3 separate regions of the Homo sapiens genome follow, and regions 1 and 3 are each linked to region 2. The links come from fine-mapping of genetic effects on gene expression. A gene starts in region 2. Each other region holds a variant in brackets. All regions are shown on one strand. Distances are from middle to middle.

Region 1 (8,188 bases), 33 kb before region 2:
CTTTGTAGATTGATATGAAAAATCTCCAAGATTTATGGTTAAGTAAAAAATAATAAGTTGCACAACAGTGTGTATAGTATGCTATAGTTTCTGAAAAAAAGAAAAAGGGAAAACTACATGTATCTGTTTTTACATACACACATTAGCTCTGGAATGATTTGGAAAAATACATGAGAAATATACATTGCTTGTTTCCAGGTGGCAGAACTCCATGCCTAGGTGACTGGGTATGTTTTTTGTAACTTCGAATTTTTGAACCATGTGAATGTATTACCTAATCAAAATTGAAAAGATAGGAAAAAAAAGAAATACACCAAAATGTTAATTATCTTTTGTTGAGTAGCATCTGAGCAACCTTTATTCTCTTTTCATGTTGGTCAATATTTTCCTAACTTTCTACATGCTGTGCGTTACTTTTATAACAAGGAAAGAATTTTAAGAATAAAAATAATCATGCCTGATCATTTATTTACCAGTTGAGTCCCTTTTCCTATGTTCTAAGCATAATTTCTGCTGAGGAATGGAAAGAAAGATTGTGGATTTAAAAGATGTATGCTTGGCTGGGCACGACGGCTCATGCCTGTAATCCCAGCACTTTGGGAGGCCAAGGTGGGCGGATCACGAGATCAGGAGATTGAGACCATCCTGGCTAACATAGTGAAACCCTGCATGGTGGCACTTGCCTGTAGTCCCAGCTACTCCCAAGGCTAAGGCAGAAGAACCACTTGAACCCGGGAGGGAGGAGTTGCAGTGAGCCGAGATCGCGGCACTGCACTCTAGCCTGGTAGACTGGGTGACAGAATGAGACTCCGTCTCAAAAAAAAAAAAAAAAAGATGTATGCTCTTCTACCTTTCTTAACATTGCAAATTAAGAACAGAATACCATCTGTTTTATTTTCTCCCAGCTAAACAATCTAAATCATTCTAATTTTTTGCTTTACTATCTCTAAAGGTAGGTTACAACTATGTATGAAACACAGTACTAAGGCATCTTCACTTTCTTTGTGTCCTCACTTGCCTCAGATCTCCACTTTATTTTGACGAAGTTCTAGACCAAGGAATAATCTAAATATATTCACAATTTTTCCCTTGCACATTAAATCATATGATGATATGTTATTACACCCACATTTTAAAACTTTAAAATTTATGTGAATTTATCTTCTTAGCACTGGGCCATTGTGACTGATTAATATATTTTAATTAATGTGTTTTAATTTTAATTAATGTATTTTAATTATCCTCACATAATAAAATTTGACAAAAAATTATTGTTCTAAGTAACTTAAATCACTTATTTATACAGATACTCCATTTGGCATATGAAGTCTTTGAACTGTAGTTACAGAGGTGACAGTTTAGCCAAATGGCTAGGAGTCCTGCCTTCTTATTTATTTATTTTATTTATTTGTTTATTGGGGAGGGGTACGGGGGCTGGTAAGACAGGGTCTCACTGTGTCGCCCAAGCTGGTCTCAAACTTCTGGCTTCAAGCAATCCTCCCACCTCAACCTCCCAAAGTCCTGAGATTACAGGTGTGAGCCACCATGTCCAGTCTGAGTCCTGCCTTCTTAAGGGAGGCTATGGACAGGCTAGTCCAAGTGGACACATGTAGAAACTTCCTTCCCTCTGAGACCTTGAGAGAGATGAGGGTATAATGCCCAGTGTTGGCAGAGAATTCTGAGGTTCAGAACATCAACATGGTCTCGTCAGTGGTGGAATTACTGCCATAATTAGTAGAACAAGTTGTCTATGCTTGCTGAATGCCAACATGACTGGTGGTATAAAGGCAGCAAGCACACAGTTTGATGCACCTCCAACCAGGCAAATATCTCCTTCAGAGCTTGCCCAGCCCTTGGAGCCTCTAGCACGTCTCCACAAAAAATAAGGAAGGCGCCAGCTGCTACATCCGCTCGCCTGAACACTTATCTCAACATCTTCTGCACCTTGCCACTGGGGCAAACCTAAATAAAAGCTGCTCCAGACTAATCAAAGTCAAAATTCTCACCCATTGTCATCCCAGAACCAGACTGTGTCGTCTGGTCCAGCCCATTCTTAAGTTTAGAAGCCAGAAACCACACCCTGTGGAGTTAGATCATGAACGTGAATTCTAAAATCAGGCAGATCTGAGTTGAATTGGGATTCCCACCACTTACTCTTTTGGTGACCTGAAAAAATTACTTAATGTCTCTGAACCTCCGTGTTCTTTTCCATAAAATCGGAATAATAATGTTTACCTCATGATATAGTTGGGAAATTAAATGTATTTGTATAAAGTAGGACATCCTTCTTAATAGTCAGTATTTCATTAGTTACTTTCCTACCTGGTGGTTAAATTGTAGAGCAGTGTGAATCCTAGAATTAAAAAAACTAAACATATATATTTTATTTAAAGTATTTTTCGTACTTGAACCTGAATAGTGATAACGTTTAGCTGATTGCCACCAATTCTACAACTTTACTTTCAGTTCTGTCTCTTTCTTTCACAAATTATTTTTCTAATGTTTATTGCTCTGTTTTTAGAAGTTTAAAAAAAGAATACATAGAGAACACCTTTTAGTTTCTAAATATAATATTACACTGGCAACCCTTTTTAAAACTGAGTTTGGAGTTGTATTTATTTTCACATTTTCCGAAAATACTCTTCTATTGTGATGTAAAACAAACAAACAAAAATTCAAACCCCAGTTATCTCTTCCTGTAATCAGGTAAATAAAATAGGCTTCTGAGCGACATACAAAAACATACTAAAATATTAATAGGACTGTTTTTCAGATCTGGTTCTTCAAAAGCTAACTAAGGTCAGTTTCCCTGGGAAACAGACTGAAATGGAGATTTACGTACAGTCATTTGTTGAGGAGGGCCCTGGGCCCCAACACCTGTGGGAAAAGTGAAGGAAATAGGATTGGGCTGTGGGAGAAGCAGAGATGTGGTACAACCCCACAGGCAGCTCTGGAGCTGGGAGGGCCCTTTAGAGTTCTCCTGACTTGAGTTAGTCAGTATGGTTCCACCTTGTCAAGTCCTCCTCCTCTATAGGCTGTTCCAGGAAGGAAGGTAGACGGCTCAGCTGAGGGCAATTCCCAGAGAGGATGCCACTGAGAGCTGGGGAGTGGTGGGGATGGTAGGGGTGCCTGACTATTGACCACAACATCCACTGCATGCTTAAAATATATTCAGACTTTCTTAAACTCATATTTTAGGTGTGTATTGCAAACTAATGTCTACGGAAGAGTTAACAGCAACAACCAAATTCAAGGCAGAGTACTTTTTAAAATCGTCAAGAAGAAAATGAAAAGAGAATAAAATACTTGTTCATTGGCATGGAAACAGCCTTGCAGTGAGCAACATAATTGTTTACCATGCCAATTATTTATAAAACAAGAATATTTCCAAATATACATAGCCCTCTTACTATTGTGCTGGTTTTATTAGTGTATGTCTTGAATATTTAACATTAGAATTACATAACTCGCCACTCCCTAATGCCCCAGAAGAGAAGCATAGATTTGATACACATAGCTTCATGTCCAAGGATTATTCATGTAGAATCTCCGACAGTCAAAAGACATGAGGCTTTCAGTGACTGGTGAGGTATTCCATGGTCCAAGAGAGATGAACTTGGGCTAAACCCTCTTGAGGGAATGTATCACTTTCTTAAATTCATACTAAAGAAAAGCAAGGAGGAAAAGCAAGGGGTGGGGGAAGCAGGAATGAAAATCTCTTTTCAATGGAATGTCAATTAATAAATGCAGAAGGAATCAC[A/T]GAGTTAGAAAACCTACCATTTTGCAACCATCATGGTAATTATTTGTGAAAAAAAGTCCATCAATGGATGCTAAAGCTATTGGTTGGTAGTTTAAGGGGAGCAGGATTTTTACATAATCTCAAAGTATCTCCTTAGAGATTATTAACTACAGAGAAGAACACAGGAACCACAGGGAAGAAATCTGGTAGTCTCCACCTTAACTGAATTTGATTCACCTTAACATCACCAATAATGGGAACCAGGTTTATTTGTGATGCACCAAAAATTATGTCATCATTAATGTAAAATTCCTATCAAAATGTATAATCTTCCATTTAAACATGAGAAAACAATCAAGCAGACCCAAATGTAAAAACAAGCTACAAAATAACTGGCTTTCATTCTTCAAAACTGCCAATGACAAGAAAACAAAGAAAGGTTCAGGAATTGTTCCAGATTAAAGGAGATCAAAGTACATGATTACTAAATACAATGCATAATCCTGATCTGGCTCTTGAATTATGAAAAAAATTGCTATGAAGGATATTGTTAAGACATTTTGAAAAACTTAAACATGGAAGTTACCATAGATAAAAGTAGTATGTCAATGTTAAGTTTCCTGGATTTTATTATAGTCTAATAATGTAAAAGAATGTTCTTATTCTGAAGAAGTATATACTGAAGTATTTAGGGATTAATGTTTATGGTCTCTGTAACTTAATATCTCATTAAGTTCAGCTTAATAATATTGACACTATTAATATTAATTAATGTATGTACACATAAAATAGAGTGATAAATGTGGCCAAATGTTAACACTTGGTTAATTTAGAAAAAAAGTATAAAAAGTTAAAAATAGGTGAAGATATAGATATATTCTAGCTCTGCCCACTGAAATGGCCTGGGAGTAATCTAACACCTTCAATACAAACTGGATCTCTTCCTCTAGGGTCTGGAATTTGGTCCTTAATACCATTTTCCATTACATGTACCCAGAATCCTTGGGAAAAATGACTGATTCTGTGTCTGATGCACAGAAGGTATAATATAAGTCTGGGATACCTTATCAGGTCAGAAAGAAAGAAAATTTTCATATTATAAAGCTGGGTCCAAAGGACTCAATAAACAGCTAAAACAATTAAACATTGGCTAGGATAAAACAATTAGAACATCAAAGAAAATGATATATATGTGAAATAGGTTTTATAGAAAAATTCACGAATTCATAATAGTACTCAAGAAAGAATATTTAGCATTAAGTTTAAAAAAAGAAAGTAATTACTCTAGAATACATGACTGTTGAAACATATTACTTGACTTACCTTGTTATCACATTAGTATTATTGACTCATTTATTGAATCAGTGAAGGAAGATCTGGGTTGATAGTTTTCTTTTTTCTTTTAGTGCTTTAGCAATGTCACTTTATTGTCAATTGGTCTGCATAGTTTCTGACTAGAAGTCTGCTATAATTTTTACCTTTGTTCTGTACATAATGTGTATTATTTTTCCTCCAGCTGTCTTCAAAGTTTTTCTCTTTTTTGTTGGTTTCTGGCAATTGAACATGACGCTTATGTATCTGTGATTCCTGTTTCATTTTGTTTTCTTATATATACTGACTTGTGTTCATTGAGACTCCTAGAGTGTTGATTTGGTATCTCATTAATTTTGGAAAATTCTCAGCCATCATTTCCATATACTTATTCTGCCCTGTTCACTCACTCTTCTTCTTCTGGGGTTCCAAATAGATGTTTGATTTTTTCCCCCACAATGCTTGCATGCTCTACATTTTCTTTTTTGCTCCCTTCTTTGTGTTTTATTTTGGGAAATTTTTATTAAATCATCTTCACATTTAGTGATTATTTAACTGAGTCTGCTGATAAACCTCTCAAAGGTATTCTTCATCTCTGTTAACATGCTACCAATCATTTCCATTTCATTTGTTTTTATAATTTTTATGTCTTTACTGAAATGACTATCTGTCATCGAGGCTGAGGTGGAGTGGCACAATCATAACTCATTGCAGCCTCAAACTTTTGGGTTCCATCAATCCTTCCACCTCAGCCTCCCAGGTAGCCATGACTACAGGCACAAACCACCATGCCTGGTCCACCACTCTATCAATCCAGCTGCTTCAGGATGATGGTGAACACCTGGCTAATTTTTAATTTTTTTTTTCTTGTAGAGACAGGATCTTGCCATGTTGACCAGGCTGGCTTCAAATTTCTGGCCTAAAGTGATCCTCCCACCTCAGCTTTCCAAAGTGCTGGGATTACAGGAATGAGCCACTGTGCCTGGCCAGTCATCACTATCTTTAATTCCCTGACTGATAATTCCAACATCTGTGACATATCTGAGCCTAGTTTTGTTGACTGTTTTGTTTCTTCACAGGGTAGTGTTTCTTATTCTTCTACTGAAAAAGACATCATGTGCAGGGCAGTAGAGACTGAGGTAAACACTATTTATGCCTGGAAATAGGCATACCTCATCTTTACTAGGCAATTGGTTTGGGGAGCTGAGTCAATCTAGTCGTGAGATAGCCTAAGTTTAAGTTTTGTCATTACTACAGTTATTTTCAATGTGCCACTCTCAATTTTAAATCCCTCCGGAATTAACTTGGGTTTAGGGTGTGGGTTTGGGGGCTGATTTACCAGAGGGTTTTTGTTTGTTAGTAATGACAGCTGCAGCCTCAGCTTCAGATTTTCTCTTTGTGCCTGTGTATCAGGGAAGATCTCTTTCCATTCTCATGAACTTCCCTCAGAAGTTGGCTGTTGGTCAGCATGTACTAGCCTTGTAGTGAGGGACATTTTCTATTGTTCCAGTTCAACTGTAGTCTTAGGCAGGAGCTGTAAATCCGGGTGTCTACACGAGTCCTCCTATCCCTCTCGCATCTGGAAGAAACCTCTAACGGGCCAAACCCAAGATATATTTCTGTCCCTACCCCAAAACTAAAGTTGTTTGGTTTTTTTTTCTGTTCCACTCCACCAACTGCAATAGATCATCACCTACCATAGCCAGATAGGGCAGGCTTCCTTTACTCGCTTTCTATCAGTACAAAACTTTCTTCACTAGGTAATTTGTAATAACTGGTCCTATTATATATTAATAGATAATGCATGCATTTGAAAATCCCTGATCTCTTAAGAAATCCTGGCACTCAAATCTCTCTGTCTGTCTGTCTGTCTCTCTCTTTCAATTCAAAAAAGAAGTCATCCTTAGGACATGAAGCTGGGAAATGCCCTATTTGTTCTCTACCTGTGGTCTCTTTCCCTGAGATGATTAGGCTTATGGCTCAAACTCGGAGATGGATGGGATGTCATTTAGAGAGGTTTGATATTTTAAAGTGGTGTCTTTATAATAATTATATAGAAAAGCAAGGCAATGAAACAACCGTTGGAACCACAAAATGAACAATTAAACTCTTGGCAAATCAGAAAAGCAAAGCAAGAGTAATGAATTACTGAACACTACACAATACAGAGCTTGGGTGTAGCCAGACTGTTCTTAGAGCAGCTCTCAATTCAAGGCAATAGATCCCCTTTGATACATCCAGGGATTTCCAATAGGTGAGAAAATGACCATAAAAGCAGAGAGGCTTGAGAAAGAATAACACCATGGCTGTGAAATGCCCTTTGGCATGGGACAGCGTGGCTAAGAACAGACTGAAATTTATGCAGGGTTTAACTAAAATGAATACTGAGCTGGATGCATAATTGGCAAAGCCCAGTGCAAAATGAAAATGCAGGACTTGTTCAAAAAGCAAGAGAGAAACGTACCATAAAAGATGGTAAAATACTATAAAGCTTTTCCTTTCTTCTGCAGTCTCGCTCTCTCAACAGGCCATGGTGCTTTTTATTTTGTCACTTTAAGTAAAGAAAACATCACTTTAAGTAAAGAAAAATTAAAATTGTAAATTATTATCATGGTTTAGCATTCATCTTTATATTGTGCATAGCCGGTTTCAATATAAATATAAGAGCATTTAATTCGTATGCAGAATTGCTGAACTTACACAATTTGTATTTTGTAGTTCTCACACGCCTATGTATTTTGTTCTTAACAGAACAACACCATACAAAATTGACTCAACTGTTGTTATTTCACTTCTTAATGCCTGCATGTTCTACCAACACTTTCTACTTTTGACTTACTGACGTTAAGAAGAACTGAAAGGAAAAGGAGCTATCTTTCCCTTTCTTGTACATCATCCTTTTCAGCAAAAGTAGTTGACTCACATGGAGAAGTAACACAAGTAAGGTAGGATATCATAGAGTTAGTCAGTTATTTGTGTTGCTTGGAACACTACAGCCTTCTTTCAGGATTCAAAGTGAGGCAAGGTTTGAACACAAAGCTTGGCTTCCCAGGGCTGCCAGTGCCCAGCTCACTCAGTCAAGACATATAAAACGCTTACTTATATGTGCTTTGAGTCTCACAGTTCCCATCCATTGAA
Region 2 (8,188 bases):
GCACCATGATAAAAACAACTAGATGTCTTCATTGGAATCTTCACTTGAATTTATCCTGTAGTTATTTGTGTAACTCCTTATGTTGAACACATAGCTCATTAATTTTCTGCCTTCTTTCCTTAAGACATTTAAGGCTACAAATGTTCTTTTTTTTTTTTTTCCCAAGACAGAGTCTCGCTCTGTGGCCCAGGCTGGAGTGCAGTGGTGCAATCTCACCTCACTGCAATGTCCATCTCCCAGGTTCAAACAATTCTCGTGACTCAGCCTCCAAAGTAGCTAGGATTTCAGGCGCACGCCATCATGCCCAGCTAATTTTTTTTGGTAATTTTGGTAAAGATGGGGTTTTGCCATGCTGGCCAGGCTGGTCTCAAACTCCTGATCTCAAGTGATCTGCCCACCTCAGCCTCCCAAAGTGCTAGGATTACAGGCGTGAGCCACAGTGCCGTGCCACAGATGTTCTTTGAAGTTACTGCCTTCACTACATCCCACAAGCTTTGCTGCAGTTTGGCGATGATATACTTAGATTTGCTTTGCTTTGTTGCATTTATCCATTTTGGGGTTTGTTGAGTGTATTGTATTTGTGAGTGGTTGTTTTTTTCTTTCTGTTTTAACAGCCTTAGTGAGATACAATTGACGTACTACACAATTCACCTATTTAAAGTATATTTAAGTCAGTGTTTTTTTAGTATTTAATATACTAAACCGGGTTATACAATCATTGCCATAATCCAATTTTAGAACATTTTCACATCCCCTAAAAGAAATCTTACAGTCATTAGCAGTTAATCTGTAACCTTATCTACTCCCTATCCCTAAGTAACTACTAACCTACTTTCTGTCTTTGTAAGTTTGCCTATTCTGGACATATCATATAACTGGAATTATACAATAGGTGATTTTTTTGTGACTGGCTTCTTTCACATGGCATGTTTTCAAAACTCATCGATGTCACAGCATATATCCACACTTCATTTCATTATATTGCAGAATAATATTCCACTGCATAGATATACCACACTTTGTTTATTCCTTCTTCAGTTGATGAGCATTTGGGTTGTTTACAAACTTTTTGATTATTGTGAATAATGCTGCTATGAACATTTTTGTACAAGTTTTTGTGTGGCCATATGTTTCTTTTCTCTAGAAGTGGAATTGTTGGGTAATATAGTAACTCTACATTTAGCTTTTGGAGGAACTGCCAAATTGTTTTCCTAAGGGGCTCCATCATTTTGAGTTCCTAGCGGTAATGTGAGAGGGTTCCAATTTCTCCACATGTTCAACACTTTTTCTTGTCTATCTTTTTGATTATAGCCATCCTACTTGGTGAGAAGTAGCATGTCATTGTAGTCTTGATCTGCATTTCCCTGATGACTACAGATGTTGAGCATCTTTTCATGTGATTATTGGTCATTTCCATATTTTTGAAGAAATGTCTATTCAACTTGTTTGCCCATTAACAAAAAAAGGGGGGTTGTTTTAGTTGTTGAGTTGTAAGAATCTTTGACAAATTCTGGATCTAAGTACCCTATCAAGTATGTGGTTTACAAATATTGTCTCCTATTCTCTTGTCTTTTTACTTTGTTGATAATATTGTTTGCAGCATACGTTTAATTTCTGTGCAGTCCAATTTATCTATTTTTTTTCTTCTGTCATTTATGTTTCTGTGTCATATATAAGAAACCACTGGCTAACCCAAGGTCACTAAGATTTACTCCCTTTTTTTCTTACAAGAGTTTGGTAGCATTAACTCATACATTGAGGTCTAGGATTCATTTTGAGATATTTTTTTCATCTGTGGTTTTATGTCTTTCATTACTTTTGTAAAATTCTTGGCTATTATATCTTCAAATATTGCTTCTGCTTCATTCTCTGTCTCCTCTTTTTCTAAGGCTCCAGTTATACCTATCCTGGGTTTATTCATTGTACACATGCCTATTAAGCTGTGTTCTATTTTTTCCATTTGTTTTTCTCTCTGTGCTTGAGTTTAGGTATTTTTTCTTGCTCAGTCTCCAAATTCACTAACCCTCTGTTCTGCTGTGTCCAGGTTGCTATTAAACTGATCCATTGCAATATTCCTTTCAGAAATTACATTTTTCAGTTAAATATTTTCCATTGATTCTTTTTTATGGATTTTAATACTCTTAAAATTCTGCATATTTTAATCCATCTTGTTCATGTTTTCTTCTATTTTATAACCTATGGCTTTATTTCATAATAGTTATTTTAAAGTTCTTATCTAAACTTCAATAGTTGGCTTATCTGTGGATCTTCTATTATTTTTTTTTTCTTGATTGTTGGTCAAATTTTCCTGCTCTTCTCACACCTCATAATTTTTTTTTACAAATGTTAGACTTTTATATTAAAGATCTATAGACAATATAGATGATGTTATTTTCTTCTAGGGATAAACATAGACAAATAGGATGATGTTCTGATTATCTCTGTCTAATCAAGGATGAGCTGGGTTGGGATTGGGGTGCGGTTTCAGTAAGATAGTTCTCTTGTGGTTTCTCTCTCTTCTTCATGTGTGATTCCTCTGGGCTTTTGATCAAGAGCCTGGACAGCTGCTGTTTCCTCTGCTCTGAGATTCAGTTCTGCCTTTGAGAGGTTTTAAACGTAGATCTTCAGCCTCCTTCTCATACAACTTCAAAAATAGTGTAAATGTCTTGAAGGGGGAGAATGCTTGTGTATTTGAGGCAGGATCCTTCTAAGCAGAATTAGCTTTCTATGCAGTAGAATATGGGGTAATTTTACTCTGCCTATCACGCCCAGCTGCTCAGCCTCCTGCACCACCCCAGAACTCAGCGAATGTCCTGTGGGAAAACTGGCTATATGTTTGGGGCTCCTCTATATTTCCAATCCATTTCACAGCTCACATGATGGTTAAACATCTCACTGGTTTCTCTTTTTCTGTGTAAACTCCCTCTGCCCAGGCCAAGCTGGATGAGTCTATGCCCAGAATTAGTACATGTCACCAGGGAAGAAAACAGTGGATACTGTCACTCCCTTAGTTCAGACCTCAGCAAAAGATTTATTCAATTGCACTGTAATTTTTGGGACAATGACTGAATAGGTAAAGAGGCCAAGCTAGAAGTCTAAATATGAATATCACTGTGGTCTTTGCAGGAACCTGGACAAGCAAGAAGATCATCTCAGGGTGGACAAGTGTCATTGGAGCTGGGCAGCATGAATTTTTGAGTAATACCTTATGTCCATGAGAAGTATTATTAATAGAATCCAATTCTGTTTCAGCATGGCCTTAGAAAGAGGATGGGCTATCTTTAGATGGAGTAAGTCCCCGAGGTTCTCAGACAACATAAAGGTAAAACTCAAAAGGGAAATACTAGGCTGTCTGCTACAAGATCGGGGTAAGAATCCCAGATTTGTGGCAATATGGCACCAGTTTCAAAGGTTTTATTGCACTTAATCTAATGATCAAATTAGGAGAAAAGATGAATGTTACTATAATATGTAAAAGTAGTGCTTAAGATCATTAATTTCATCTTATTTCGATGTTTTGTTCATTGAATAAACAGTAACCTAATTTAGGGACTTGGTAAAGATGACGTTCACTTTAAGAAAACTGATATAACCAAAAATAAACTAGGCTGGGGGTGGTGGCTCATGCCTGTAATCCCAGCAGTTTGGGAGGCTGAGGTGGGTAGATCACATCATGTGAGGTCAGGAGTTTGAGACCAATCTGGCCTACACGGTGAAACCCCGTCTCTACTAAAAATACAAAAAATTAGCCAGGCATGGTGGCAGGAGTCTGTAATCCTAGCTACTCGGGAGGCTGAGCCAGGAGAATTGCTTGAACGTGGGAGGCAGAGGTTGCAGTGAGCCGAGATGGTGTCATTGCACTCCAGCCTGTGCAACAAGAGCAAAACTCCGTCTCTAAATAAATAAATAAATAAACTAAAAATCTGTGGTAGGGGGAATGGTGGTAGGGAGGTAGTCACAGGATTCAGTTCAACTAATTGAGTGCTCTCATGTGCTATGCATTGTGCTAAGCACACAATAATAAAGTCCACACAAGAGAATTGTGGTGGAGAAAATAACTTGAAAAGAGCTTGAACAGAAGCAATGCAAGACTAGAAGGTGAGACATTGTTATGGGAGAGGAGGTTTTTAGCCTGTCTTTTAAAACAGAAACATCTCAATTGAGGTCTGTTTTCAAAGGAACCCCAACTGGAGGTGGGCTAAGGTGGATAAACTACATTTCTCCTCCAACTATGATTGAGTCACCATTATTAACTGTTAATTCTACCAGGTCATTTTATGGTATTATGCCTGTAAATCTTAATTCATAATTAGAAGTATACTTTTTGTTTTGGTTTCAATTCCTTTTCTGCTCTACCTCTCTCTACTTACTAGATTTGCCCCTTTTAGAACCTGGTTCAACTTGTCCTGTCTTCTTTGCTGATGGACTAATTAAATGCATGGAAGCCATAATCAATTAATCAGGCTTCAAATATGCTTTTAGTGTTCGATAGCTAGGGGAGAGGAAGACAGTAGCTATTTCAGGGGAAGTCCACGTGGGGCGTTCCAGATGGACGCGAGATGGCTATAACCGTCCCTGTCTCTCAGCCCATGTGGGCGCAGGTACAGCTGCTCCGTGCGCGCCAGTGATTGAGAGGCATTTCACCCAGGCCCAGATCTGGGGCGCCAGGCGTCCAGGCTTCCGGCCACGCCCCCTTCCCGCGGTTGCTAGGAGACATGATGTCACCGGAAGCGAGGCCTGGGATAGGCTGAGGCGAAGGGAAGCCTCACCCACTGTGCAGCCCAGGCGCCGGGCGCTGCCTCTACAGCTGTGTGTAGGCCTGGGGGCGAGGGTCTTCGGAACGTAGCGCTGGCTGCGGCCCCGCCCGCCTACCCACCCGCCCGTCCGGCAGCCGGCTCCCGCCGCCTCCGCGCTCTGTCTGGGGCCAGCCACCTGGCGGGCCGCTCCGGTGCGCCTGCCCGCGCTTTTCACTGACAGGCGCTGTTCCCCACAGCCAGCGCCGCCCGCCACGTCCCAGCTCTCGGCCAACGGAGCTGCGCGGCGGGTGACCTTTCCGAGCCCAGCGCGATGACGGCTCCTTGCTCCCAGCCGGCGCAGCTTCCTGGACGCCGCCAGCTCGGGCTGGTGCCGTTCCCGCCGCCGCCGCCGCGGACGCCGCTGCTGTGGCTGCTGCTGCTGCTGCTGGCCGCCGTGGCGCCGGCGCGCGGCTGGGAGAGCGGAGACCTGGAGTTGTTTGACTTAGTGGAGGAGGTGCAGCTCAACTTCTACCAGTTCCTCGGGGTGCAGCAGGTAAGCAAGGAGGCGCGCGGGGCCGGGCGGAGAGGGGCCAGGGCAGGCGTCAGGCGACCCGGTTCCTCAGAGACAGCCGGACACGTAGGGCAGGGCTTGGTCACCCCGGGCTCTGGCTGCCCTCAGCTCGGGTCACCGGGGTCCTCAGCCTTGGAAGGACGTGTCCGTCTTCCCCAGATCTTTACTCCTGCTTCAACTTTTCTAGTCCCAGCCCCAGTGACAGGCTGGACGGCGCCACTAGCCTAGGGTGGCGATGCCTTCTCTCTGCTCCGGCGTTCTGGGGAAGAGCCTTCCCCCTCCAGCTGTGCTGGAGGAAGAACGAAGAGTGGTGTGGGTAGACTTTTTTTTTTTTTTAATTTAACACCTACCTTTTGCCTTCCTGTCCCCCTGAATGTGAGAAAGAGCAGCCGCTTCTCACCCTAAACTGTCATCTTCCACCGATACTTACCTCATCCTTATTCTTATTTCAGCTGCCTCCCCTCCTCTTCCCTTCTGGGAAAGTAGGAATGCACTGTGGCCAGTGTCTGTGTTGCAAAAGTTTTTCTTACTTTGTACTTCGTCATCTTTTTAGCCTGTTAGGTAGATGTTTGTTTCGCTTTCGCAGTTTAGAAATCTGGAGGAATTTGAAGCGTCTAACCAGGTTGGAGGTGTTAAGTTTTTTGAGCAGCAAAGGACTTGGGATGCGATTGGAAGAGAAGCCCCCGGTCAGTAATGTAGGAATGGGTTTTTTTTTCCCCTTTTCCTTTTGTTTCATTTCGTTTTCTTCTATAGCTTAAGACATTAACTTGTAAAATCCATTTGTTGCTTTTTAGTTCTACCATTGAGGGTGGTTGAGTGAGGGTAGATATCCAGTCTCTACCTGAAGCCTTGTGCGAAGGAGAAGATAACATTTCGCTGATTTCAGGCTTATGGGGTGAAAAATGTACACTTCACACGATCTGATTGAGCCCTTCGTACAATGCTTTGAATAGTTATGGGAGTAAAAAATTAATGTTTACGATAGTTGCCATTCAAGGCACACTTCACATGACTAGATATGAAATGCACATCCCCTTCCCCCATAGGTTATCATAAATGTGGGTGAACTATTGAACTTTTACTGAATTTTAATTTTCAGACATTGCATTTTCATTCCATCAGTGAATATAAAATTGCTGGGTTGCCAGGGTACCATGAGTGAAACAATTTTTTATTTTTGTAAGAGTTATAAAGTATAGGCATTTCACACTTCAGATTCATATGTGCAAGCAACTTTGTAATAACTATATTTATGATCTGTTGCCTGGTGCCCCTCCCTGCTTATAGATACACTATATATCTCATTTTCAAAGCAAATGATGGAGTATGTGTAAAAATAATTAGTGAAGCTCTGATGACTTTTAAGAACTACTTTAATACTGGGAATAATTAGAATTTATCATTGATTACATTCTGTACGTAAAGAGAGTCTTAAACATAATCTATCCAGAAATCTTGAAGATCCAGTTATTCATGAAAAATTAAGTGCCTTTAAGAGAACAGAAATTTAGTAGCAGTTTAAAATTTAGATCATGTAATCTAGCTTTGCATGTGAACACTCATAGAATTTTCATTTATAATTTCATGTAACTTGATTTGCATAGTTAATTAGGCAGTGTGAACAACCAGAGCACTTGACTCTCTGGGCAAAGATGAGAAAATAAAGAAGCATAGATAATCAAGAAGATTCTTTGTCAAGGTAGAATCCGAAAAGAAGGATCCAGAAAATTGTTTTAACCTGTGTTTCTCTATCCAGCTGTATTAAAATTGGAAAGAATGCCAGGAGGAATTTTATTCTGTCCAAGCAGAGAAACTGAATGGAACAAGTTTTTTTCTTTACATTGAATCTTAACTTTGTTAGATGACTTTCAGGGACCAGAAATTTGGTGGAGACAAATGCAACCTGTCCAGGGTCTTTCATGTGTAGTTTTCAAGCCAGAGCCATTTGGTGACTAGCCAAACATGAGGGACCAGAACAAAGTAGGTAGGCTGCTGAAAGTGGTGACCTGGCTCTGTGCACTAATCTCTTCTTGTTCACGCAACAGAGATTTGTTTGGTGCCTATTGGATTTTAAGCATTGGGAGTTGACCTTTATATAAAACAAAACCCCTAAGCTTATAATTCAGTAGGGAGAAACAGACAGTAAACAGCCAAGTAAGTAAATATAAATGTTATATGGTCAGAGCAGGCCTCTGAGAGAAGTTAGGGAGTAAGCCATGTGGGTAATTGTTGTGTTGTAGGCCATTTGGGCTGCCATAGCAAAATGCCATGAACTGGACAGCTTTTCAACAGGAGAACTTGATTTCTCACAATTCTGGAGGCTGGGAAATCCAAGATTAAGGCACCGGCAGATTCTGTGTCTGGTGAGGGCCTTCTGGTCATAGATGGCACCTTCTTGCTGTGTCCTCACATGGTGGTACGGGCAGGGCAGCTCTCTGGGGCTTCTTTTATAAGGACACTAATCTCATCCATTAGGACTCCACCTTCGTGATATAATCACCTCACAGAGGCCCCACCTTGTATTACTGTCACAATGGGGATTAGATTTCAACATAAGAATTTCGAAGGACAAAAACATTCAGACCATAGCATGGTAGAAGGACATTCAAGGAAGAGCAGACAGTAAGCACAAAGGCCAGGAGGCAAGAGCTTGCTTAGCGTTTGAGGAATAGCAAGGCAGGCAGTGTGGCTGGAGCAGAGTGATCAAGGAAAACAGTAATGGGAGAACAGCAATAGGAGACAAGATCTGAGTCATAGGTGGTAAGGGAAGACCATGTAGGGCTTTGTAGGCCATTGTAAGGACTTCGGCTTTTACTTATAAGTAAGTTGGGGGAGGTGGTGTTTGAACAGAAAAGATACATGATTTGACTTGAATTTCAAA
Region 3 (8,188 bases), 96 kb after region 2:
CTTATGCAAGTACTCAGAGATCCAAAGACAGACTATAGAGTTTTGTAAGTTATTGCTAGATGTAGAAAAGATAAAAAGCCACAAAATGTTAGGTAGGATGTTAGCAACATATAGTCTCATCAATTCCATATTTTATAGATGAAAATACTTAAGACTCAAATTGGTGAAACAATTTCCCCAAAGTGACACAACTAGTTAATGGTAGAAATGAAACTGAAAGCAGATGAAAATAAATATTAAAATATAAGAAAAAAATACATAAGAAAAATAAAAACTAAAAAAGAATAAATTTCGCCCCAGGTCGATAACTAGAACTTTATAGTATAAGCTGTGTAATCTTAAACTCCCTGTCAGAATGTTCAGGCTGATTATAATTACACATTTTCCTCAACTTATCGATTGCATCCTGATAAGCCCATCATAAGGAGAAAATACCCTAAGTTGCAAATACATTAAATATACCTAACCTCCGGAAACTCATAGCTTAGCCTAGCCTACCTTAAACACGCTCAGAACACTTACGTTTAGCCCACAGTTGGGTAAAATAATCTAATACAAAGCCTATTTTATTTTTAAAAAGCGCTGAATATCCCATGTAATTTACTGAATACTGTACTGAAAGAAAAAACAAACAGAATGATTATATAGACCCTGGAAGTATGGTTTCTACTGAATGCATATCACTATCTCACCATCATAAAATGGAAAAGTTGTTCTGTTAAACCATCATTAAGTTGGGGACATCTGTAGGACATAAGTTGTAGGATTCTTACATTGAGTTAGGGCTGAATAAATGGCTTCTACAGTCTCTTCTATCTCTTGGAACAAATGGAAAAAATAGTTTTTAGGCTGTGCATCTCCTTGAATATTACAGTCTCAGACCAGAGGAAGACAGTAGCTTCTGGTTTTCTGTTTTATTTTTATTACTTTTTGTGGATTTAGTCTTATTATAGTTCTGTACAGAAATTTTGACTCTTATCAAAATGTACAATTTTACAGTTTTTCTATATTTTTCATTGTAATTTTATTGCATATTATATGTAATTCTGAGATTATAGTATAAGTCAATGGGAGAACAAAACAATATAGAGCATTTGATTTTGTGGGCAGATTTTCAGAAATGTACTTATGGTATTTTCCTACATTGAAGGTTATTTCTAAGCCTCAAACGAAAGAGAAGATTTGGGCTATCAAACAATGAAAAAGAAATAGAACATCCTCTATATTGTTTCTAGGTATCCTTCCTCATAGCTCTTCCACGTTCCTTATTCCCATCAGGACAGGTGGTATTTCCCTCCCCCTACCACTGTAAATCAATGCCTGCCCCGCCTGCCCGCCTTCCCGCCTTCCCGCCTTCCTTCCTTCCTTCCTTCCTTCCTTCCTTCCTTCCTTCCTTCCTTTCTCTCTCTTTCTTTCTCTTTTTCTCTTTCTCTTTCTTTCTCCCTCTCTCCCTCTTTCTCTCTTCCCCCCCTCTTTCTTTCTCTCTCTCTTCTTTGTCTCTTTCTCTCTCTCCATCTCTCTCTTTCTTTCTTCCTTTTCTTTCCTTCCTTTCCTTCCTCCTCTCCTCTCCTCTCCTCTCCTCTCCTCTCCTCTCCTCTCCTCTCCTCTCCTTCCTTTCTTTCCTTTCTTTTCTTGTTCTGGGCTACATGTGCAGAATTTACAGGTTTGTTACATAGGGAAACGTGTGCCATGGTGGTTTGCTTAATACCCATCACCTAGGTATTAAGCCCCATATGCATTATTAGCTATTTATCCTGAAGCTCACCCTCTTCCCACCCCACCACAGGCCCTGATGTGTGTTATTCCCCTTCTTGTGTCCACGTATTCTCATTTTTCAGCTCCCACTTATGAGTGAGAACATGCAGTGTTTGGTTTTCTGTTAGTTTAATGCCCTTGTTTCTTAAGCTTTTCTTTGGATTGCTTAATATGTTGATGTTTATATGGAGAGATAAAAGTGAACCAAAACATTATAAACAGTGCCACCTTAGCATGTTCTCTTATCACTTAATGAACTATGTCAAGAATGTTAAAGGGTGTCCGGGTGCGGTGGCTCACACCAGCACTTTGGGAGGCCAAGGTGGGCGGATCACCAGAGATCAAGAGTTCGAGACCAGCCTGGACAACATTGTGAAACGCCGTCTTACTAAAAATATAAATATTAGCCGAGTGTGGTGGCAGGCACCTGTAGTCCCAGCTATTTGGGAGACTGAGGCAGGAGAATCGCTTGAACCCAGAAGGTGGAGGTTGCAGTGAGCCGAGATCTTGCCTCTCCACTCCAGCCTGGGTGACAGAGCAAGACTCCATCTGAAAAAGAAAAAAAAAAAAGGTTTAATGTAAGGATATTCCCTATCTCACAGCTTACTAATCTTGGAAATATTGTATCTTCAGGCTTAACTAAATTATCATCATTATGAAGCCTTCCTTCATCAGGCCAACTGAAAAATTCTCATTGTATGTTCTCCATACTAACTTTACAGCATTTACTATTTGTATTAATCACGGTAGACTGATAGACCTTAGTCTGTTTCTGGCATATGCCTCATGTCTGTCACTGGTTGATAGGAAAGTGGGCATTCTGGTCTACCTAACCATTCAGGAGCTCAGAGCAATGATGTGTTCACCACCTTCTTAGCTGTATCCATCTGGAACATGTGGCCTCCTTGCTCATTATGACAAGAGGAGAGAGCTGGAGGATTTGCATGAGTTTTTCTGTGAGTTGGTTTGGAAATGACACATGATATTTCCATCCACAGCCCATCCAGAACTAGTCTTCTGACCCCACCTAATCTTAAGAGGACAGCGGAATATAGGGAAACAGAATGTTGAGTGAGCACCACTTTCTTTGCCAGTAATTCATTCAACAAACTTTATTTATTGATTGCATTATTTACTTTGTGCCGGGGCAGGGGTAGGGGGTGAAAGACAACAATTCCTGTTCTCACAGAGCTTATATTCTATATTCCATATTTTAGTTAATATTTATAGTTATTTTTACATATTCCTTAAGGGAAACTGTTGTATCTTATATAATCACCACATATCCTAATAATGTACAATACATATAATAATGGTTCAATAAATAAGCATAAATATCCCTGTTTAATGTCTTCTTGTGCAGGAGCCTATGCTCTATAATTACGTACAAAGAACACTCATACATTATTTAAGTTAGCCATAGTTTAAATGTAAAACCTGTCCCCTGTTTGATGTCTATGAAGGCAGGTTTTGAGCTCTTCAGGAAATCTTAAATATTGGCCAGGGGCGGTGGCTTACGCCTGTAATCCCAGCACTTTGGGAGGCCGAAGCAGGCAGATCACCTGAGGCCAGGAGTTCAAGACCAGCCTGGCCAACATGGCAAAACCCCGTCTCTACTAAAAAATACAAAAATTAGCCAGACGTGGTGGTGGGCACCTGTTATCCCAGCTACTTGGGAGGCTGAGGCAGGGATAATTGCTTAAACCCGGGAGGCGGAGGTTGCAGTGAGCTGAGATCATGTCACTGCACTCCAGCCTGGGCGACACAGCGAGACTCTGTCTTGGGGAAAAAAAAAAAGAAAGAAATTTTAAGTACTAATACAGTTGCTTCTAGAATAAAAACTTTTGCTCATGGTTCCATTCATAAGGATTATAAACTCCTTGAGAATAGGAGTTCTTTCTGTTTGGAAAAATGTAAACTCCATAATTTTAATACAGTATTATGAGGCAGGCAGTTCAGAGCCCTAATCAATTGAAGTAAGCATTTAATTATTCATTAAATATTTATTAAGCTTCTGTAAGTGCCAGGCAGTGTACTAGGGCTATAAGGATGGATTAGAAGTTTATATCCCCAGGAAATCTAACTTTCTGTGTAGGTAAACTGGAGTTTACTCTGGACCCAAATAAGTTTTTGTGCTTATTTTTCCCATTAAACGATTTTATTATAATTTTATTCACTTGAATTCACCCCCCCCCCATGAAAAATGGGAGGGAAAAAAGGTTGAAAACAATTTATCTTATTCATCCTCTTTTGAATGCTTGGATTCAAAAGCATACCTTACAGAATAGCCATACCTTAGAACATACCTTAAAGAATAGCCACGTGGTTTCTTCTTGAATACTATCTCCAAAATCAGCCGATTTCATTTTCAGGTAATTTTAATTATTAGGAAATTCTTATATATATATATATATAAAATATATATATATATTTTCTCTATATTATATATATTTTATATATATTATATATAATATATATTTTATATATATAATATATATTTTTATATATTATATATTATATATTTTTATATATTATATATTATATATTTTTATATATTATATATTATATATATATTTTATATATTATATATATTTTATATATAATATATATTTATGTATATTATATTATATATATTTATATATTATATTATATTATATATTTATATATATTATTATATATAATATATTTCATATATATTTCATATATTTCAGACAGAGTCTCACTCTGTGGCCCATGCTGGAGTTCAGTGGTGTGATCTTGGCTCACTGCAACCTCCACCTCCCAGGTTCAAGCAATTCTCTTGCCTCAGCCTCCTGAGTAGCGGGGATTACAGGTGCCTGCCACCACACCTGGCTAATTTTTTGTATTTTTAGTACACAT[G/C]GGGCTTCACCATGTTGGCCAGGCTAGTCTTGAACTCCTGCCCTCAAGTGATCCGCCCACCTGGGCTTCCCGAAGTGCTAGGATTGCAGGTGTGAGCCACCACACCTGGCTTCTTCCTCATATTGATCCAAAGTCAAAACTTTCATCTCTGGAATCATATGCAGTAGTTTACAACATTCTTGCCTGTAATAAACCTTGAGATATTGTATGGTAGTTATGAAGTTATCCCCAGTCTTCTTATCTCTAATCCCTTATAAAAATAGAGTTTCAAGCTGCCTCCCTATTTAATCACTTTCCTTTTAAAGTCTTTCTATTTGTCAGTGCATCTTAAAGTGTGATACCCCAAACTATACACAGGGATGGTTGAAACAATGTAGAGTTGTTTAGTAAAGTAGAATTGCTTGAGTTCATAGATTGTTAAGGAAGTAATGTTTCCTGGAGTGGGCATATTGTAATTTGATTTCAAAGCATAGGTAAGATATGAAAAAAAAAAAACATGAGGAATGTTTAAATAAATGCTTAGAAATGGAGCAAAAGGAAGATAAAAATAGTGACTGAAACTAGGGAATGTAATGAAAGTCTCAGATTAAGTAGAGTAGGTTAGGGTGATTGGGTGGATTGCAGTCCTCAGATAAGTGAGGATTTGGATTAAATGTGTATTTCAAAGAGGAAGTTTTAGTGGGATTATGTCCCATAGCAGGAAGAAGAAACATTAACAGGGAAAATGTTCAAATTTGGCAGGACTACTAGGGAGAGGTTGCTATTATACAGCAAAATGAAGTGAGAAGGATGCAATTAAAAAGGTCACATAAGCAAGAAGATACAGGATTTGGCAGGGGAATTTTGGTGAAGTATGAAGCACAAAACTCATCCTTTGTGTTGGAAAACAAGATCCTTGTCAAATTGGTAGAAGTAATAATAAAAATAGCTAACATACATATAAGGCCTAACTGTGTAGAAGATATCATTCTAACTGTTTCCCAGGTATTAACACATTTAATCTTCATAACAGTCCTATAAGTTAGGTACTTTTGTTATCCCCATTTTATGAATGAGAAAATGGACCCACAGAGAAGTAAAATAATTTTCTGAATGTCACATAGCTAGTAAGATGGCAGAGCTGAGTTCTTAATTCAGATAGTCTGGCTCCAAATCTGTCCTCTTAATCACCATATTTCACTGTGCTATACTGTGATGATTGATTTCAGCCTACTTTCTTTTACCTCTCATAAATAACTAATCTGTGCCCTTCTTTTCTTGCATGTGCCACATTTCCTACTCCCCTCAAGGAGCCAATGCCTTCCTGACCTTTTCTTCTTCCCTACTATTAAAACCTACTCTGTGGAAAGAAGCTAATAAGCTCATTCATTCATTCACACCAAGGTATAAATGACTCATATGGCTTAATATAAAATAATACTTCTTTAGGGTTGACTTTTTTTAAGGGGGGTGGGGAATGTTAAGGGCTATAAAACCTTAACCCAAAACCCTGTTGAAACTTAAACTATATATGGGCATGGGAGGATGAGTAAGTTGGTTGCATGGCCATCTGTGCTCTTCTAGTAGTACCATTGTTTACCTGGCCTAGGGCTTGTGTGAATCCTCATAGAAATGAGGTAGGAACATAAAAGTGGGGATGAAAAGAATTAAGAGATCTTTTACTATATTAACAATACATCTGTATTGTATTGATTCAATGATTTTAGGAATACCAAATTCTTATTAGGTGGAAGAGTTCTGATAGAACCCCAAGAGACACAGACCCCCAGGAAAAAGCTTTAATTTGGACACAGTCGTAGACGAAAAGAGTTTCTAGGGTTTAAGTATTTATGTATTTACATCTGAGTCAAAGTAGTGTCAAAGATTTTGTTCCTTTATTTCTTGCAGAAATAAAGCTCTCTCAGATGGGTCTATGATTTATCTGCTCTAGGAATCTTATGGTCTGAGAATGTTACCCTAGAGTTATTCTTGAAACCCTTCTTTTTCTTATTTCACCTTAGTTAGTCATCAGGCCCCTTCATTTCTTGCTTTATTAGGTTTCTCACATATTTCAGTCTAGTTCAATTCGGTAAATACTTATTGAGTACCTGCTTTATGGCAGATACTGTGCTCTGGGCATGTAAGTATCCCTTTCTCAATTTCTCATCTGGAAGAGAATATAACATGATACAAGCAGTTATAGACATGTTTAAATATAGAAGTAGTGTACAAGGGAGAATTACACTGCCAGAGAAGGTCAGAAAAACTTGCAAAGGAGATGGGGCTTGAATGGGTTTTCAGGGATTAATAAGAGTTCATCAGAATAATGCCAGGGAAGTACAATATTGTAGCCAGAGGGCAAAGCAATTGCACAGACATGGAAGCACAGTGTGGGCTGGCAGCTGTTAATACAAGTGGTATTCCTATAGACTATCTGAGGTTTGAGCCAAGGAGTGTGGTAAAAGATCTGTTTTGCTTATTTTCATTGTCGGGATCTCATATGCCTAGAGCATCAGCTTGTTTATTTTTATGTATGTCATTATTTAAGACCTAGGTTTTTTTTTTTTTTGGTACACCACTAAAGCCTTACCTGTGTGCCACTCATTGAGACTTCAGTCACTGTATCTTGACACCTAAGTATATGTATGCAGTATGTGTCCTCAGTCCTCAATCCTCAAGACTTCATGGTAATGGTTTTTATACTCGTCTCTAAGGGTGGTAAAAGGAGGAGTGGCACCTTTCACTTTTATATACATGCTCGTATAAGTTTTATAATCAGATTTGAAGATAATTTTGAATATCTATTGTAGTTAAAGGGCTAATATGAAAATAGCAGTAGTACTTTGTTAGTCACAGTAATATAATTTACTGTGCCAAATCAGTTCAGCAAATGAGTTTTTCTGCTCTCTGTATATGCAACAGTATATTATGAAAATAGCATACAATGGAAGAAAACAGGAAGAGGATACCTCCTTTCCATATCTGAGAGAAAAAATAGTTTAAAATTATACTCATAAAATTTCTCATTGTAACTGGCTCTCCAGGAGAGAAAAATCATAGAGAAATGTTTAATTTCTGCTCATCATAAAATTTGAAAACAAAAAGAAAGCCTACTTATAAAATGAATATAATGCTTTAAAGTTAAGTTACATGGAAAATATTATTGAAGCACACTGATTTTTATGTTAATTTATGTATAACTTTTTTTCTTAAGGATGCTGGGCAGTTTTATGCTAAATATAAAGAAACAAGATTGAAGGAAAAGGAAGATGCACTGACTAGAACTGAACTTGAAACACTTCAAAGTGAGTTTTAAACATTAGTGTTTTAACAATGTCATATAAAATTAATTATTTAAATGTGAATTATCTTTTAAATTCAGCAGTAATTAAATTTTCTGGTTTTCTTTTTTTTTTTTTCCCACTCCCTAGTGGAGTCACTTGTACTTAATGTATTTGACATGGAACATCCTACATTATAGCATTACTTTACCACCCAAAGTTTGATATCAGAAGGAAGGATAAAATCAGCTTGAGTCATGTAACTCCTCAAATCTAGGGGCATCCAAAGTCTG

Alleles and levels. Positions count from the first base shown, and alleles are read on the strand shown. Sizes are in standard deviations (SD) of each study's normalised expression. Not every link is listed here.
For the expression in testis of the gene that starts at base 4,772 in region 2, C is the high allele of the variant in region 3 and G is the other (moderate effect, 0.47 SD a copy in GTEx).

What was found. PIP is the estimated chance that this variant, and not a neighbour inherited with it, causes the effect.
Region 1: its variant is the best candidate, but not a certain one, in a credible set for the expression of DNAJC1 in whole blood (TOPMed, PIP 0.53).
Region 3: its variant is the best candidate, but not a certain one, in a credible set for the expression of DNAJC1 in testis (GTEx, PIP 0.55).

What each region holds. Positions count from the first base shown.
Region 1 is chr10:22,033,746-22,041,933 of GRCh38, reverse strand. No RefSeq gene overlaps it. Among named protein-coding and RNA genes, the nearest start is that of DNAJC1, 34 kb to the right of the region's middle. The variant A/T (reference allele first, on the strand shown) is at 3,761.
Region 2 is chr10:22,000,314-22,008,501 of GRCh38, reverse strand. It overlaps DNAJC1 (DnaJ heat shock protein family (Hsp40) member C1), which reads left to right and starts at 4,772. Exons shown (of 12, transcript NM_022365.4): 1 at 4,772-5,289. The coding sequence starts at 5,068. RefSeq lists enhancers at 4,519-4,648, 4,679-4,728, 4,608-5,108 and a silencer at 4,769-5,138.
Region 3 is chr10:21,904,253-21,912,440 of GRCh38, reverse strand. DNAJC1 (DnaJ heat shock protein family (Hsp40) member C1) reads left to right here. Exons shown (of 12, transcript NM_022365.4): 7 at 7,829-7,919. Among named protein-coding and RNA genes, the nearest start is that of DNAJC1, 95 kb to the left of the region's middle. The variant G/C (reference allele first, on the strand shown) is at 4,636.